3 linked regions of the Homo sapiens genome follow. The protein of the gene in region 2 interacts with the protein of the main gene of each other region in a pairwise test. Each region holds a gene or a part of one and is shown on either strand. Other genes may lie near its edges.

What was found.
Region 1: the proteins of IGF1R (region 2) and PTPRR interact in a two-hybrid assay, tested with the Homo sapiens proteins (one study listed by BioGRID and IntAct).
Region 3: the proteins of IGF1R (region 2) and LEF1 interact in binary tests that used the Homo sapiens proteins (3 or more experiments, as listed by UniProt).

Annotation. Positions count from the first base shown.
Region 1 is NC_000012.12:70,641,008-70,644,758, forward strand, and holds part of PTPRR (receptor-type tyrosine-protein phosphatase R isoform 1 precursor), read right to left. Parts: intron 1-3,751. UniProt on the Homo sapiens protein: Sequesters mitogen-activated protein kinases (MAPKs) such as MAPK1, MAPK3 and MAPK14 in the cytoplasm in an inactive form.
Region 2 is NC_000015.10:98,910,388-98,914,138, forward strand, and holds part of IGF1R (insulin-like growth factor 1 receptor isoform 1 precursor), read left to right. Parts: intron 1-927; coding exon 928-1,054; intron 1,055-2,656; coding exon 2,657-2,895; intron 2,896-3,751. UniProt on the Homo sapiens protein: Receptor tyrosine kinase which mediates actions of insulin-like growth factor 1 (IGF1). Binds IGF1 with high affinity and IGF2 and insulin (INS) with a lower affinity. The activated IGF1R is involved in cell growth and survival control.
Region 3 is NC_000004.12:108,078,221-108,081,971, forward strand, and holds part of LEF1 (lymphoid enhancer-binding factor 1), read right to left. Parts: intron 3,450-3,751; coding exon 3,366-3,449; intron 1,395-3,365; coding exon 1,272-1,394; intron 163-1,271; coding exon 1-162. UniProt on the Homo sapiens protein: Transcription factor that binds DNA in a sequence-specific manner. Participates in the Wnt signaling pathway. Activates transcription of target genes in the presence of CTNNB1 and EP300.

The sequences.
Region 1 (3,751 bases), on a different chromosome or scaffold from region 2:
AGTATTCCTTGGTCAGAAGTGAACAACAGAAATGGCCAGCTGAGAATGTGGTAATGGTTTATCTTCTTAGCTGTGTGATGACATCTGGGCTCATCTAAAATCATAGCAGGTGTTCCGAAGATGCTGGCTTGAACTGTGAAGCTTGGGAGACACCACCACAGTAAATATTAGGGTAGCTCCAGGGAGCTGAGAGGTGCCTCCCTTCCTCTGGCATTTGCACAGCTCAGGGCACCATTACTCCCTCTTGAGCTGCAGACAGTATGTGGAAGCTTCTATGTGCTCCACCTCTTAGGCTCTGGTCTGTCAGCTTCCTCTCACCATTTACCTCACTTTGAGGCAAGATTTTCCCCTTCTTGTATGTTCTGGTCAGCACTGGTATTTACATGTCCAACTGGTGAATGAATGGAGACACAGTTTAGAATTTAATAACTGTTTCACCCTAAGTGGGTCAGTGGTGTAATTTAATGGTTGGAGTATATTTACTATGACATTCTGTTCACTAAATCAAGGTTGTTTTAGCCAGTGAAAGTGGGGAAGATGGAGAAGCATACTCATTAATTGTGGGCTGGCAAAATTCTTGCAGGTCTGAAGGCTTCAGGAAAGTATATGAAAAGTTCTCTTACCTCCCACTTAATTTGGAAAATAAAAATGAAAAAAACTGGCATCAGAGGAATTCTTAGAGATCATCCATTCTAGTCACTGACAATATAGCTTTTTTAGAAATCTTGCAATTTTAGAGGCAGCCTTTTCCAAGGTTGGCAGGAAAACTTTTAAGACATCAACATGAATCTGTCCTTTCTAACTTTCACCGCATTGGTCCAACTGAAATAACCCAAAAGACGTCTTAAGGCTCCCCTGTAGTCACACAACAGCTCTCCAAAGGCTGGAAAACAGCCATCAAAGTCCTATAATCTTTTCTTCTTTAGACTAAACATCCTGTGGTCACTCAATATTTCTGTACAGCCTGGTTTTTCTGTCACTCACCACTCTAGTCTCCCTCTTCTACAGGCTATTTTATCAAATATGACCTTCTTAGAGAGTTGTGTCTCCTTCTGATGAGATCTATGAAGCAGGCTTATTTTCTCTTCCAGCTGCACGTTAGAGACCAATAGATCTGTGTTTGCAGGTGCATCAGGTGGTGAGGTCCCCCAGTGCCTACATGGTGCCTGGTTCTCGGTAGTATTTTAAGATACTAACTGACGGTGTAGATTAAATAAAAAGTCAACAAGACTTTTTTTGAATGTGGACATTATAGCTTTCTCCCATCCTGTAATTATGCTACTGGATTTTTGAAACTAAATGCAAGGCTTTCTATTTATTCTTGTTAATTTCAACTTGTTAGTTTCAGCACAATGCTCTTGTTTACTGGATCACTATCTATCGTCAATATATTAGTCTTCCATTTCTCACTCCCAGCGTTGTGTCTCCCAGGTATTTAACAAGGATCCCTTACATCTTTTTATCTAAGGCATTATTAAAAAATAGAAAAAGAGACAAAGTAGGGTCTTTAATATGAGTAAGTTGATATCATGATATATACTATCTAATCCCATTCTATAATTATTTCCAACTAGGTTGTAGGTCCTTTAAAGACCTACAAGCATAATGGCATGGTCTTCTTCTACTTGTAACAATAAAAAGCACTTACGAGTCCTAGGTAAATACTTGTCAAATGAATTACCCAGGTCATGCTATTTTCATGTCATGTGAAAACAGATAAACTCTAGGCTAAAAGAAAGCAAAAGGTATTCCAGGATGCATTCACTGGAGGCTGGTTCAAATTCAGGAACTCATCATAATCATCTCTGAAAATATTAAATAAATGTCCTATTGCATATATTGATATATAGAATAGTCTATTGGCTGGATGCAGTGGCTCATGCCTATAACCCCAGCACTTTGGGAGTGCTGGATGGATCACTCGAGCCCAAAGTGGGAGGATCACTTGAGCCCAGGAGCTCGAGACCAGCCTGGGTAACATAGTTAGACCCTGTCTACAATTTAAAAGAAAAATTAGCTGGACATGGTGGTATATGCCTGTGGTCCCAACTACACAGGAGGTTGAGGCCAGAGGATAGCATTTGCTCTATAACAGGTAATCCATTCTTAGAAAGGTCAACAGAGTCTTCTTTCTTCTTATTTTTGATATGGGGTCTTGCTTTGTTGCCCAGGCTGGAGTGTAGTCATGCAATCACAGCTCACTGCAGCCTTGGCCTCCCAGGCTCAGGTGATTCTCCCACCTCAGCCTCCCAAGTAGCTGGGATGACAGGTGCATGCCACCATACTGAGCTAATTTTTTCTGTGTGTGTGTGTTTTTTGTGTTTGTTTTGTTTGTTTTGTTTTTTAAGAGAGAGAGAGGGTTTTGCCATGTTGCCCAAGCTGGTCTTGAACTCCTAGGCTCAGGCAATCCATCCACCTCAGCCTCCCAAAGTGCTGGGATTACAGGCATGAGCCACCATGCCTGGCAAATGCAGTTTTTTAGATAGGCTGGTCATAGCAAAAAAAGAAACACCTAAGAAGCTAGTACAGTGTCTGTATACAAAATATATTTATGGAATAAATGTATAAAGCTTGGTTAACTATGGAACTCTCAAGAGAGCTCTATAGTTATTCATCCTCAGGAGAGCTCTGACTTGACTCCAGGAAGCTCTTAGGTCAGATAGGTTTCATGGATTTGCTAAAATCTGGATCTATATTACTGATATAAAGTTCCCAATACAAAGTGGTTCTGGGAGGTGAGAAACAAGGGTACTCTTTTTCTTACTTTTTTTTTCTTTTTCTTTTTGGGGCAGGGTCTCACTGTGTCATCCTGGCTGGATCGTGGCTCACTGCAGCCTCAACCTCCCAGGTCAACTGATCTCCTTAGCCTCCCAAGTAGCTGGGACTACAGGTGTGCACCAATATGCATGCACCTTAAATTGCAAACAGAAGTGAAACTTACCTCAGGTTCATATCTGATAAATGCTTATGTTAGAACTAAAACATAACCCCAGCCAATCATAAGCATCCAACTCACATATTGTTATGTCAGTAAGGACTTTCCAATACAGTACCTGAAAAAAGGCAATTATGTAATTGCAAACCAACCAAATAAATTGTTTGTTTCTGTACTTTCCCAATAAATACTTGCCTCTGGCGTTTTGTCATTGGAACACTAAACCTCTTTTGGTCTGGTGTTTCCCAATGTATGACTGGCTTCTTACTAAATAAACTCTTTAAAATTTTATTGTGCGTCAGATATTTCTTTTCCAGTACACGTTTGTTTTCCCAGGAGGTATAATACATTAAGTGAAAATACCTACTGCTAAGCAGGAGTTAGTTTACCAAAAAAGAGTAAGGTCAAATAAAAATGTCAAGAGAACCCCAGCTAGCTGAGAGAATGGTGCCAAGTTCATTACCAGGGGGGACCAGAGTATGTTAAGAGGGAAAAAGACAGCATACACTGTTGTCAAGACAAATTCTGTCTCCACCACTTACTAGATATTTTACCCAACTACACAATCTCTGCAGTGCTCAGTTTTTTCATCTGCAAATGATGCGACAATAAAAACAATAGTTCCTACTTTATAGCATTGTTGTGAGAAATAAATGGGACTATCACTTAACATGTTTAGCACATAGCCAAGCACATATCAATACCATAAATGTCAACTATTATTATTGTTATTGTTATTGTTACTCTTTGGTACCATCTGGTCAAATAGGACTGGTTAGGAGGCTCTGGAGTGAGGCCCCCAAAGACCCTGGAGAA
Region 2 (3,751 bases):
ACACTTCAGCAGGAACTGTGACATTTCCCAATCTCAGTTGCGCACATTTTGTCCTAAAGACTTCTTAGCTCTTTTACTGTCTTCAGTCCCTCTGCTTCACCTCTTGAGTGTGTAGTGGGATTCAGGCAGATAAGAGGGCGAAAGGACAATTCGTCAGAGAGCTCTGGGTCTCCATGAGGGTGGGCAGTCATCAGTCTTTCCCTGGTCCTTATCGTAGTTTGAATTTGGTCCAAGGAATAAGAGAGACACTTGGCACAGCTTCCCTGCCATACCCGCCAGCCAGGCTACTTCCCATAGAGCACGTTAGGCTTGGCCAAGTGAGATCTTCTTGTCAGTGCTTAATCCAGCCTCCCGTTGTTTGTCAGCCCTAGCTGGAGGCCTCACAGGAGTTCCTGTGTCCTTCCAGTTTGATACCAAGTTTAGACCAAGAAAAGTTCCTTTCTGTGGCACACCTGTAGTCTCTTACCTGTCTTTGGTGGTTGTACACGAACAGGCAGATATCCACAACTGCAGAACAAGTGTCATCGTCTCTCTTAAGAAGTTTCAGGGCAGCCTAAAGGCTCACCTTCACCCTACCAGGCCCCCTTTCATAGCCAGGATCTTAGGGATGGAGAAGAAAGATAAGTTCACCTCGTTCACTGAAGTCGCCCCTTGTTTTCAGGTTAGGAAACCCAGGTTCATGTCCAAGTCCCTGGGCAAGTAGCCAGCGTAACTGATTGACCTAAAACAAAGGATGGAGCCCTTGGAGCTCTGCATAGTGAAATGTATGATTTCTTAGTGGAAAACGAGAAAGCCACTGAGGAAGCCCAGAAGGGAACTTAGCATATACAGCCAGCTTTGGGGAAGGGGGAAGCAGTGCCAAGCAAGACAGGTGCTTTTCAGAGACACATGAATCTCTGTCACTCACGGATGTACTCTTTGCCCCAGGTGAAAGTGACGTCCTGCATTTCACCTCCACCACCACGTCGAAGAATCGCATCATCATAACCTGGCACCGGTACCGGCCCCCTGACTACAGGGATCTCATCAGCTTCACCGTTTACTACAAGGAAGCGTGAGTTTCTGCTTTGGGTGATGCCATTCTGTTGACAGGGCTACGAATGGGAGAGGCCAGTCTTTCGATCCTTGAATGGGCTGGCTGAATACAGGGGGTCAGCAGAGTCCCCAGGGAGAGCCACGCCAAACATCCCTACTTCATCCTCATGCACCCTCTCGGGCTGTCCCTGTGATGTCAGTCACAGCCAGTGACAGCCATGATTGGGAAAGTGTTAGCTCGAGGCCTGTCATTCTTTAGTGAGTGATTAGAGGTGTTTGAATAAAATAAACCCAAAATGGGGAAAGCTTGCTTTTTCCAGAATTAGGTCAGTCCAGACTCATGAACGATGATGGGGGACTTCACTGAAATATCGTTTCAGCCTCCTTACCTACTAGGCCTACTCCAGGAACACCCTGCAGGCACGTGGCTCTTTTGTATCATCTTATTCCTGTCTCTCTCTCTGTGTGCCTCTCCCAAGCTGTGGCCCTCTGCTCTAGGTCATGAGCCTTCCAAACAAGCGAAGAAAAGTGGAGAGAGAACAACCTTCATGTCTTGAGCCTTTTGTGACTTCTCCTAGACTCTGTTGGGAGCTTTTCCTGTGTGATCACATGACATTCCCCCATCTAAGCAGCCGAGGCTTATTCCTCCCGACTGCAGCCCTCTTTGATCTCCCTCTTCCTTCCTTTGCCTTCTATATCCAGGTGGCTACCCCGGTCTACTTAGCCATCCCCCTTACCCAGGTCCCATGTTAATCCCATAGTTCTCTCTCCCAGATGTGTGGCTTCCAAAGAGCAGCAACCAGAGGCACCTTATGACAGCATCTTGTACTCTTTCCTCCTGCCAGAGCTGGGGTCCTATGAATGAGAAATTGGGTACTTAGGATTACTAGGCTTTCAGAGTTTGTACACAGGGGAGCCCCTCATGATCTCCCATCCCATGACAGCAGACGGTGTTTTGTTCATGTTTGTTTCAGAAGCCAGCGGCCAGCAGCTGTCCAGCCCTTTTAGCTGATAAATATAAAATACCTACCCAACCATGCATCTGTGCGAAGTACTATATTCTCTGATAGTCACACCAGTGCTTTGGCAATGTCAGCTGGTAATTTCACTGAGGACTTGATGCTGGTTTCTAAGGCAATCTGGAAACTAAATATTTGAATATTATAAGATGCTTAAGCATCAGAATTGTTTATGAGCAATCTGAATTTTAGAAGCTACTTCTGTTTGTCTGTAGGAAAGTCATTTTTCTCCAACAGTTACCTTCTTTCAATATCTGATATTTGCATTAACTGACTATGCTTGTTTTTTTCTTGATGAAAAAATGCTGCAATCAGAAGAGAGAAAAATAGTTTTTGCATATGTTCTTAAGGAATAGTAACTATTGAATCCCAGTAACTGTTGAAGTGGCTCTTCCTGAGGCAGACCATTCAATTCTGTAATGCCCGACTGGGGAAGCCCAGAGTCCAGTCACTTCATTTCTTCTTCTATAAAAGTCTAATTGATTATTTGTTTATTTAGACCTCCCATTATAGAAAGTGTGACATGCTGGGCCTCTGGGGAAGATTTTTGAGGGTTTTGATGTCAGAGCCCCGAACTTTCTCTGAACTTAATTGTCTTTCAGACCCTTTAAGAATGTCACAGAGTATGATGGGCAGGATGCCTGCGGCTCCAACAGCTGGAACATGGTGGACGTGGACCTCCCGCCCAACAAGGACGTGGAGCCCGGCATCTTACTACATGGGCTGAAGCCCTGGACTCAGTACGCCGTTTACGTCAAGGCTGTGACCCTCACCATGGTGGAGAACGACCATATCCGTGGGGCCAAGAGTGAGATCTTGTACATTCGCACCAATGCTTCAGGTATCCATGCCTAGACAAGCCCCCAGCATCCACACTTCTTCGCAAGCTCACTGGCCTTGCTTGTACCAGGTGTCATTGTAGGGTTAGCAGTGAGCTATGCCTGTTGTCTTTCTTGTCAATAGGTAATACTGTGTCATATTCATTTCCCCACTGCTAACACATTAGGCTCTTCTGTGCCATTTTCTGGCCTCGGTACTATCTTCCATCATCTCCTGCTTTGTGCCTGTGAGCCCAGGTCCTCCAGGGTGCTGGGCTGGTTTCATTGGAAGGCCCAGCCTGGAAACAGCCGTCTTCAGCTGCCCTTGTTTCTTGTTTGTTTTGATGTTCAATCCTCCAGGAACTGAAACCATGCTGATCTGTGTTCCACTTAATTCATGTAGCTCACTGGTTTTCCATCTTCATTCTGGAGCTTATAGAGTTCCAAAGAGGTCAACAAAAGTTGAAAGCCTGCAGATGTAGTATGTTGTGGATATTCAGAGTATTCACTGATGATGAGGTTCCTCCTTCCTTTATCTTTAGGTTCTAAACCATCTCATTTCTCAACTCCAGATCTGGAAACAGTAAAAGCAAACGTTAATAGTTTCCAGTATATAAAAACTAGTTTAGAAGTAGGAAAATCCACTTCAGTTTTAAAGACACTGATTGTTTTAGTGTATTGGAGCTTCTATCACAAAAAAACAGTGTAGCCTGGGTGGCTTATAAGCAATAGAAATGTATTTCTCACAGTTCCAGAAGCCACAAAGTGCAAGATCAAGGCGCTGGCAGATTTGGTGTCTGGTGAGGGCCCACTCCCTGGCTCATAGATGGCTGTCTTTTCATTGTGTCCTTGCATGGTGGCAGGGATGCGGGAGCACTC
Region 3 (3,751 bases), on a different chromosome or scaffold from region 2:
CTTCTGCCAAGAATCTGGTTGATAGCTGCACTTTCTTTTAGAGTACACTCAGCAACGACATTCGCTCTCATTTCTTTCATGTATAACATAAAAGCATTCAGAGGCTTCTTAATGTGAGGTCTTTTTGGCTCCTGCTCCTTTCTCTGTTCATGCTGAGGCTTCCTAAAAGGTGGTGGTGGTGGTGGTTAGGGGAAGGGGTTGAAGGAATGAGGAAGGGATGGGGGAGGAGAAAAGCAGAGCACCTGCTCACATGGCTACACTCAGGATGGCGACAACCCTCTCACCCCAGACCACCACCAACTTGGAAGAGCAGTTATTGACTCATTTGACAAAACACTGAGAGGCAAACAACCCATCCAATAGGGCTTCCTATCTACTCAGTGACTGAGAATAAAACCCTTTGGTTTGAGAAAGTGGACCTGTCATTATAGAACTATGAACACCAAGTAGAAATGGACTTGGCATTGTGAAGATGCTCCAGATGGGCTCTGAGGCTGAGGACTTCTCTGGTCCCCTCAGAAGAAGCTGAACACACAGCACAGGTGATCATTCCTCTTTCAGAATAGAGGTTCTTAACTTTTGCAGGGGGTTAAGGAGCACTTTGAGAAGCTAATAAATCTTTAGACCTTTTCCCCCAAACAAATGCATGTTGCCTTTGCATACATTCGCAAGGGCTTTATGGACCATCACATGCTGCCTCTCACCCCCACCCTCCCATCCACAAAACCTAGATTAAGAAACTAATTACTCATCTCTTCAGAGTAAATTAATTTAGGCCTGCACTCACAGTCTGAGACAACCCTGGCCCAACAGGGAATCCTGGGCTTTATTTGTTCCTTTCCCTTGAATTCTGTGCTGTTGAAGCTTGGAGCCAGGGTAACTGCACTTCCAGAAGAAAGTGCATTAAACCCTCCAATCTACTTCACTCAGGTAGGAACAGGTTCTCCCCAATAATCTGAACCAAATGAAAATTCAGTGGTAAATGGCTAAACAGCTGAAGAGTCTCGAATGCCTATGTTCTGAAGATTCTTCCATTTTGGTGAGGTTCCCATGATCTTTTAGGGTCCGTGCTCCTTTGCAACCTCAGAATCAAAATCAGCACAGTAGGAATGAAGCTGCTTAATGTCCTCAGGGACAGAGTTTTCAAGGCAGAGGTGCATTGAGTTTCACAGCAACACAAAGGGGTGAAGGATCACTGTTGCAAAGGAGCAACAGTGTAGAAATCCTCAGTATCCTAAGGCAATCACAGCAGAGCCCGGGTGGATACTTACACGTGCATTAGGTCACTGTCAGTGTGGGGATGTTCCTGTTTGACCTGAGGTGTTACAATAGCTGGATGAGGGATGCCAGTTGTGTGGGGACCAGGAGGACCGGGAATCATATGATGGGAAAACCTGAAAGGAGGAAAGAGAAGAAAACAATGTACTACTGGCTGTTGCAGCAAAAGCTAGATGGAATTTCAAAGCAATCCACTAACTGCTACTGGCTAAGAGTAAAAACACATCTTTACGCACAGAAGCATTAACTATAAATTAGAGTGGGCCGATAATTATTTTTTTCTTTCTATATTCGGGTGGAAAAAAAAAAGTGAATCATTTTTCTTGCAAAGCAATTTTGAAATAGGAATTTCACGAAAAGTAATTATTGGAAATATAACACTTTATTTAAGACTTGACTTTTTAAATGATTTTTAAATGAAAGCAAAACACATCATGTTTTAAAATCTCTGCCTATATTCCTAAGCAAACCATCACAATGGGAATTTTCTCATATTATTGGCTTCCTCATCCATATTAGGAGGGAACAACTGAGAAAACGGATAGGAATCAGTCTCCCATTTAATAAGGTTTCCATTAACATCATCCAAAATGATTTTCTGTGCAGAAATACACTAATGTTTCAGAGATCTCATCTTATGGAAAACTGGTAACAGAAATAAGGAGAAGAATTTAAAGGAAGGATAAAGTTCTGCATCAAGGTTAAAAACTACACTTGCCAAAGGCTTTTTCCCAAGTACGCTTGAACAGCATTAAAAAAAATCTTAAAATATCCACCACCAGCCAACACAAAGGAGGGAAACTGCCAGGCAAGAAAAATAAAATAAAGACAGTATTTTCAATAAGCTCTCTAGATAAATTTGGATATGTTTTAGAAATTTTTGCTTTTCAAACTTTTTAAAGTAAACATTTAATTCAGCAAGAACAACATTCTCAGGTCTTTCATCACAGCCTACACAATTAATTTCCTTTTCTTGAAAGGAACTCTGCTAGGATATATATTTTTCAAAAACAAATTTTAAAATATGAAGGAAGCATGGTAAAAATACAAATATTTGACCAAATAATGATGCTTTGCTAAATGTATTACTTGCAAAAATACATGATGATAGTTATTTGCCTGTGAGAGTTCTATCATCAGATAGTTCTTACAATGTTAAAAAGTATAAAAATATGTTTTAAGGGGAAGGATATTAATTCCACCTCCTCCCACAATCAGCTACATTTACAACTCACTGAAAAAAAAAGTTTTTTTAAAGCTGTAATTCACCACAGAAACTTTGAATACTATACCCATATAAAAAAGACATATTCACAACCAGTTAATAACCCACCAGTTTGACTTCCGGCACAATAATGCTAGCTCCCTTGACAAAGCCACATCGAACACACAGATGATGCACCCCAAATGTGTGTGTACATCAAGCACAGGGCACAGTGCCATCCTCTCCAGAAGCAAAAGCATCACACACAGCAGCTTCTCGGTGCGGCGCGGCAGGCCTCCCGAGCTCCGCTGGCATGACCATGTCCACACAGGGCCTGATTCACACACTAGGACGCACACCCTGTATGGCCTGCCAGCCTGTCCGCACTGTTCTGTCTCTTCTGACAGCCTCCATCCAGGAAGGCTCTAGACTATCTGGGCATTTTCAAACACTGCCGCATCAAACTGATACAACTTTCCACAAAGGAAGCAAATTATAGAGCTGAGACCAAACCAGTTTTATCCTCCTCCCTTACCCCACCCCCGGCATATTTTGAATCAAACAAACTCTTCTTGTAATGTCCGCTTTCCGGACAGTTCCCATCCCACAGTCAGGCGGCCATGAATTTGTTTGGAGGCAACGCTTTCCAAGGAGGCTGAGTCCATCGCCCGATGGTGTGGCTGGTCCGGCCGGGGCACAGCGCAGAGCTCCTACCCGGGACTCTCTCTGACACCTAGTGTGGGAGCCAGGCACACTGCACAGACAGACACATGGCTGAGGTATGCACCCTCCTAGCCAACCAAAAGGCAAGCAGAGGCGCACAGGATGCAAGCACGAGAAGAGCAACTTGTCCTCGAGCGCCCCAGTTTCCACCTCCACCTACCTGGACATGGAAGTGTCGACTGACAGTGAGGATGGGTAGGGTTGCCTGAATCCACCCGTGATGGGATATACAGGCTGACCTTGCCTGAGGTCACAGAAGAAAGGAACCCATCAATGACAAAACACCAGTTACCAACCAGTAGTAAGAGTTGGATGAGGGGAGAAGAGGGAGATATTCAAACAGAATCTTGTGGAAGTATTACAGACCCCGGGATTGTTTCAGAAACGTAACCGTTCCCCTTCCTTACCCTCCACCCAATCAAAGTGTCATTTGCCTTGAAAGAAATCTCCCACCCTCAACTTTGAAACAAACCATCCATGAATTACATCTCTTTTATCCCATCCCCTCTCCCAACCCCATTAATGCTTTGAACAAAGTAAGCACTT